Homo sapiens: one gene and its partner. The protein of the gene in region 1 purifies or fractionates together with the protein of each later gene. This does not show direct contact. Each region holds a gene or a part of one and is shown in the gene's direction. Other genes may lie near its edges.

Region 1 (3,832 bases):
TTTGGTGGGTATATAGTGATATATCATTGAGGTCTCAGTTTGCATTTCCCTGATTATTAATTCACATGTTAATTGTCCATTTGGATTTCTTCTTCTGTGAGGTATCTGTTTAAATCTTTCTATTGAATCATCTTTTCTTTATGGATTTCTATGATTTCTTAAGTTTAGGCATAGTTCTCTGTCACTTATTTGTGCTGCATATACAATTTGCCACTTCTCTGCTTCTCTTTTTGGAACCACTTTTAGAGTGGTTCAATTATCATTCTTTTCCTTTTTGCTTAATGCATGGTATTTCTTGATTATGAATGTCCCTACTTGGGAAGTCATAATGATATTCTCAGGTATTATCTTCTAAAGGTTTCATAGCTGCACATGAAATTCATTTTTGTGCGTGGCATGCTGGAGAAGGGGCCTTGAAATCCGATGGAGCAGATATTCTTACCTTGTCCCACTTTTATAAGAGTGGCTTTGCTATTCTTGGCCCTTTGGACTTTACTATAAAATTCAGGAGCCAATTGTCAAGTTCCACAAAAATACTTTTGGAATTTTAATTGTGATAATATTTAATTTACAGATTAAGAAAACATTCTTAAAAATGTAATGACATTTTTACAATACTAAGTCTTCAAATCTATTAACAGGTTATATTTTTCCATTTGTTTAGGATGTCTTTAGTTTATATTAATATGCTTCTCTAAGTACATTCATATTGTTGTCTTCATAGAAATTTTGCAAATTTTTGTTAGCATTAGTCTTGTTACTTAATGCTTAATGCTATTATAAATGGCGTCTTCCTTAAATTTTGGTTGTCTCATTGTTGCTGGTGTGTAGAAATATCATTGATTTTTATATGTAGCTATTTTAAATTCAGAGAACTTGCTAAGCTCTCTTATTAATTCAAAGGGTCTATTCAGAGATCTTTCAGATTTTGTCACATGTACAATCATGTCATCTGCCAATAGTGACAGCTTTGTTTCTTCCTTTTCTGTTTTCCTTCTTTTTTCCTTGCCTTCTTATGTTGGTTAGGACTTCCAAGATAATGTTGAATAAAAATGCTGATAGCAAGCATCCTTGTCTTTTTCCTGATCTGCAAGGGAAAACGTATAACTTTCATTATTAAGTATGATTTGGCTGAAGGTTTTGGATAGATGCACTTCATTAAGATTTTTGCCTACTATTTTTAATTTGCTGAAAGAATGATGAATTGATGAATTTTATCAAATACTTTCTCTGCATCTAATGAGATTCTCTTTAGTTTGTTAATATGTGCTATTACACTATTATTTTTTAAAGTTTCATCCTTTCATTACTGGAATAAACCCATCTAGGTCATGATGTATATATTGCTGGAATCAATTTGCTCAGATTTCAGTTAGGATTTTTCCATCTATGTTCATAAGCGAGATTGACCTATTTTCTTTTCTCATAGTATCCTTGTTGGGGATTCGTACCATAAAATGAATTGGGAAGTATTCTTTCTTTTTCTATTCTCTGAGAAAATTTATCTAAGATTGGAATATCTTTCTTGAATGTTGACTAAAATTTCTTGGTGTAGCCATCTGGGCCTCGAGTATATTTTCTGGGAAGAGTTTTACCTACTGCGTCAGTGTCCTTGAGGGTTATGGATATATTTATTGTTCTGTTTATTCTTTTGTCAGTATCACTGTTATATTTTTCTAAAAATGTATTTACTTCATTGAAATGTTAAACTGTATTGGCATAAAGTTGTTTATACTTCTTTGTTGTCTCTTTTATGTCTGCAGCATCTGTAGTGATGACTTCTTTATCTTTGTTGATATTGGTTATTTGTGCCTTCTATTTTTGTTCTTCCTCATTTTCACCAGTCTTTTAAATTTTATTAGACTTTTTTAAAAAAGCCCAACTTTTGGTTTTGTTCATCATATTTTATATTGGCTTTTTATTTCATCAGTTTCTGGTCTCTTATTATTTCTCTTCTTTTTCTTTCTTTGCTGTTACTTTTTTCTGACTTCCTCAGATGGGTGCTTAGCTCATTTAGTTTTTTTAACCTTTTTCCTTTTCTTAAATATTTATTTAAATTTATAAATTTCCCTTTTAATGCTATTTACCTGCATCCTACAAGATTTGAAATGTAGTATTTTCATTTAGTTCAAAATATTTTCTAATTTCCATTTTTTATTTTCTCATTAAAAATTTATTTAGAAATATACTTTTTATTTTATAAATTTGGGAATTTTTTAGTTATCATTTTGATATTACTAACTTCATTGTTTGTGGTCAAATAACATATTCTGACTGTTCTCAACCGTTTGACATTTGTTAAAGCTTGTTTTATGGCCACAGTTATGGTTAATTTTGTAAATTTTTTATAGAACTTGGAAAAATATATATTCTGCAGCTCGGCAGAACTGAATTTTATATGACTATTGCTTTTTAACTGCTTGATCAGTAGGGTCCAGGTTTATGCCTGTCATCCTTGGGTCTCTGTTATTCTCAAAAGTGTCTCAGCTTAGATGGTAAATGATAGGATATAATTAATGTCAAAGTTTAGAGCCACTCTTATTAAAATCTTAGATGAGTATAGAATTTCTACCAACTCAGTCAACATTCAGCATTTTGCTAGAGATCATATCTAGTTACTTAAGACTTCCCTATTTCTAAAAAAAAAAAAAAAAGAGACATGACTATTAAAAAAAGAAGAGATATAATTTTTATGATTTTTTCCTAGAAAATATTATCTACGTGGAAAATTCTAGAATTAATGGCCAAGCTAATAGTACTAATAGGAAATAAGAGGTACAAGGTTTGAAAAGGGATGTAAGATCAATAAATAATAAGAAAACTTAATAGAAAAAAATTTCCATGTACAGTACACTCAAAAAATTATAAAGTTCCTAAGGTTTTATCTAAGAAAACAGATTCATTATCTTTTTGATGCAAATCTGAAGCTTCATTGATATACATGCAACAAGATCTGAATAAATGTATAAATATACCAGTTAATTGGTGGGAATGATCAATGCAGGAGCTATGAAAATACACCTCTAATTTTCCTTTAATTTCAATGCATTCCCAATTTAAATTAACAGTATTTGACAGAACCTGACAGATTTATTCTAAAATGAATACTGAAGTTTTACTCTATAAATATACCCAAGATAATTTTGAAAAAAGTTGAATAAGTACATGGAGACTTGCCTTACCAATTATCCTAAGTATAAAGCTTTAGTAATTAAAACAATCTAACATTGGCATAGAAATGTACAAATAAATAAATGGACCAGATGAAGAGTTTAGAAAGACATCTATCCTTACATTGTAACTTAGCATATGTGAGAAAAGGATTCCAACTGAATGGGGAAAATGGTGGCAAACAACTGGATTTCTTAAAAAAAAAAAAAAGTTCTGTTTCTTACAATAACACACAGTATTCTAAATAGGCAAAACAAATAAAAGTGAAAAGCAAAGAAAACAATGACAAGAAAATATGATCTTTTTGACCCCCAAAGAATACATGGATTACTTAAATAGTACACAAAGGCACAAATCATAATGGAAAAGATCAATAAATTTGACTACATTTAATTTTTTCAAATATCAAAAAAACATAAACAGTAAATGGAGGTGGTGTGCTGAGATAAGTTATTTGCAACAATACAATAGACATAAAATTATCCCAAACATTTAAAGAACTTTTAAAAATCACTAGAAAAAGAAAGCAATTTAACTGGAAAAAATCGGCAAAAGGTATAACTGGTAATTCAGAAAACCGAAACCCACAAAAGAAATAAATCAGTGAAAAATTACTTGACTTCACCAGTAAACAAGTCACACAATAATAACAACAACAACA
Region 2 (3,832 bases), on another chromosome or scaffold:
TGTTTTTGTCCATTGAAATGTCTTAAAACTGTTTTGCTCTGGGAGGCCGATGCAGAAGGATTGCTTAAAGCCAAGAGTTGGCCGGGCGTGGTGGCTCACACCTGTAATCCCAGCACTTTGGGTGGCCGAGGCAGGCAGATCACCTGAGGTTGGGAGTTCAAGACCAGCCTGACCAACATGGAGAAACCCCATCTCTACTAAAAATACAGAATTAGCCGGGCATGGTGGTGCATGCCTGTAATCCCAGCTACTTGGGAGGCTGAGGCAGGAGAATCGCTTGAACCCAGGAGGCAGAGATTGCAGTGAGCTAAGATTGCGCCATTGCACTCCAGCCTGGGCAACAAGAGTGAAATTCCATCTCAAGGAAAAAAAAAAAAAAGCAGCCAGGAATTTGAGACCAGCCTGGGCAACATAGCAAGACCTCATCTCTGCAAAAAATTTAAAAAATTAACCGGGTGTAGTGGCACGCACCTGTAGTCCTTGCTATTCAGGAGGCTGAGGCGGGACGATTCCTGGAGCCCACAAGTTCGAGGTTACAGTGAGCCATGATTGTGCCACTACATACCAGCCTGTCCCTATAAAAATAAAATAAAATAAAAGTGTTCTGAGACAGATTTATCTACCAAATGTTTTGCTTAATACTTGGATGAATTCAAGAGAAAAAGATATATTTTATTCATATTTAAATAAAACTATAACAGCTAATACTGTTTTTCTGATTTGAAAAATTGTTTATAATATTACTATAAGATGAGATTAACAATCTTTGTAAAAATCAGATTATGTTTTGGGCTTAAAAAAAACCCTAGTGTTTTCTACTATTAGTGTACTCAAATGATTTGTGAGTGATAGTACTCAAATGAGAATTGCATTTAATTTGTACATAGTTAAATCGTCTTGTTTTGAAGCACAAAGTCAGGATGTTTCTCATCAGAATTTTCTGTTTGAATAGGGAAAAGTGGCATTGGTCATGAGGCATCATTAAAACGGAAAGCAGAGGAAAAATTGGAAAGCTACAGAAAAAAGATTCACATGAAAAACCAAGCTGAAGAAAAAGCTGCAGAACAGTTTCGGTAAAACTATTTTTGAGCTGGTTTTGGTTCTATTTCCTCTTTATTGTGGTATGTTCTCTGGTACTTGGGCATATAAAATGGTTAAAGATAACGTAGACCTTTAGTTTACAATTTTTTCTTTCAATTAGAATGCGACTTAAAAATAAGCAAGATGAAATGAAGCTAGAAGGAGATCTCAGAAGAAGCCAGCGAGCCTGTCAACAACTGGATGTCCAGAAAGTAAGCCTTTTACCAGCTTTCAGTTTAGTAAAGTGTTTTGGCACCCCCTGTGATTTCCCGTTTATTTATTATATATATATATATTTTATATATGTATTATATATATTTATATATGTATTATATGTTTATATATGTATTACATATATTTATATGTATCATATATATTTATATATTTTTTACATATGTCTTATATATTATATATATTTTATGTATTTATATATATAATATATATATTATATATATATATAAAACTAAGAACTCCAAGCCCGGTTTATCTACTCATTAAAGCTTTCATGTAATGTGCACTTCTGATCTGTGACAATTGATATAAAAATGGCTTATTATTTACTATAGTAACCTGAGTTGTCTGGGTTACTATAAAACCCAGGGTTTTATAGTAACTATAGTTTTATAGTTTTATACTAACTATAGTAAAACAAAAAGGGTTAAATAAAATTTTACATTTAATTGTTCTCTGCTTATTTGAATATCAGTTATGACTATTATGTGCAGAAATTCTGTTCTTTATAATATTTGATTAACAAGAATAGCCTATTTTCAGTTCCTATTCAGTATCTAATATATGTCTAACTATTAAAATCAGAGTGGGCCAGGCATGATGGCTCAATCCTGTAATCCTAGCACTTTGGGAGGCAAAGGCAGGATGATTATTTCAGCCCAGGAGTTCGAGACCAGCCTGGATAACATTTCAAGACTCCATCTCTACAAAACATCTTAAAATTAGCTGCATGTGGTGGCACACACCTGTAGTCCTATCTACTCAGGAGGCTGAAGTGGGAGAATCACTTGAGCCCAGAAGGTTGAGGTTGCATTGAGCTATGTTCATGCCACTGCACTCCAGCCTGGGTGACAGAGTGAGACCCTGTCTCAAAAATAAAATCAAGGTGGAATGCTATCTAGTTCAAATTTGAATAGTTTTTAAAAAATTCTGTCTCTGGCTGGGCATGGTGGCTCATGTCTGTAATCTCAGCACTTTGAGAGGACGAGGCTGCAGGATTGCTTGAGTCCAGGAGTTTGTGACCAGCCTGGACAACATAGCAAGTCCCCAGCTCTACAAAAAAAATAAATAAGTAAATAAATTCTGTCTTTGCTTTTATCTTAGTGGTTCAAGTACTCTGAAAATAAAATGACTTCATTTGAAGTCTCAAAAAGCTTTGTAAAATTTCCCTTATATATAGATTACTGGAAGCAATCTCTCACTTTCCTGTTCTTACATATTACTTTACTTTGAATGTATTTCATGGCACTTATGATTTTGTAGCATATATGTATTATTTTGTACCCATAGCCTATCTTTCCTGCTAGACTGTCAGAAGGAACTTAAAGACAACTGCACAATTCTAAAGAATTGGACTTTGCATCCCCATAGTTCATGGTACAATGTTTTCACTTTTTTTTTGAGATGGAGTCTCACTCTGTCACCAGGCTAGAGTACAGTGGCGTGATTTTGGCTCACTGCAACCTCCACCTCCTGGGTTCAAGCAATTCTCCTGCCTCGGCCTCCTGAGTAGCTGGGACGACAGGCATGCACTACCACGCCCAGCTAATTTTTGTATTTTTAGTAGAGATGGGGTTTCACCATGTTGGTCAGGATGATCTTGATCTCTTGACCTCGTGATCCACCCACCTCTCCCTCCCAAAGTGCTGGGATTGCAGGCGTGAGCCACCGTGCCCGGCCAGTGTTTTTACTCTTAAAGCCACACTCAGTGAATACGTATTGAAAGAATGAATTCATGTTGACATGAACATATTTGTCATGCTCTTATGTTTAGTATGTTTAATTGAGACTACTTCTGCATTTTCAGAATATTCAGGTTCCCAGGGAAGCATGGTACTGGTTGAGGCTTGAAGAGGAGACTGAAGAAGATGAAGAAGAAAAAGAACAGGATGAAGATGAATATAAGAGTGAAGATTTAAGCGTATGCTTTGCACCATTTCCTTCATAGGGTGTCTCAGCCTTGGCAACATTAGCACTTTGAGTTGTGGTAATCCGTTGTTGTGGAGAGCTGTCCTGTGCATTGCAAGATGTTTAGCAGCATCTCTGGCCCCTGCCCACCAGATACCAGTTGCACTTTTGCTTATGACAACCAAAACCCTCTCCAGACATTGCTAAATGTCCCCGAGGGGAAAAATAACCCCTGGTTGAGAGGTACTGCATTGCAGGATTACTTTACTAACCCCAAATCAAAACTTACATATAATTTTTCCCTTTAGCTTCCATTTGTCCTCTCATCTCAGCTTCAGTTTGGATGATGAATTAGCAACAAATGTAAATTATTTTAATTTATACCTTATTTCCTGCAAAACTTCTACAAGTCATTCTAATGTGTACTTTTTTCTCCTACTTATAAACAACAAAAAAACACAATCAAAAGAAAATGGAGGCCGGGCATGGTGGCTCACACCTGTAATCCAAACACTTTGGGAGACCAAAACTGGTGGATCACTTGAGGTCAGGAGTTTAAGACCAGCCTGGCCAACATGGTAGTGTATTTTAGTCTCTACTAAAAATACAAAAA

Evidence for each region.
Region 2: the proteins of KDM4D (region 1) and GPATCH11 purify together in Homo sapiens (affinity purification with mass spectrometry; one large-scale study listed by BioGRID and IntAct). This does not show direct contact.

Annotation. Positions count from the first base shown.
Region 1 is NC_000011.10:94,979,906-94,983,737, forward strand, and holds part of KDM4D (lysine-specific demethylase 4D), read left to right. Parts: intron 1-3,832. UniProt on the Homo sapiens protein: Histone demethylase that specifically demethylates 'Lys-9' of histone H3, thereby playing a central role in histone code. Does not demethylate histone H3 'Lys-4', H3 'Lys-27', H3 'Lys-36' nor H4 'Lys-20'.
Region 2 is NC_000002.12:37,090,964-37,094,795, forward strand, and holds part of GPATCH11 (G patch domain-containing protein 11), read left to right. Parts: intron 1-952; coding exon 953-1,073; intron 1,074-1,177; coding exon of another isoform or gene 1,178-1,201; coding exon 1,202-1,292; intron 1,293-3,118; coding exon 3,119-3,232; intron 3,233-3,688; exon of another isoform or gene 3,689-3,797; intron 3,798-3,832.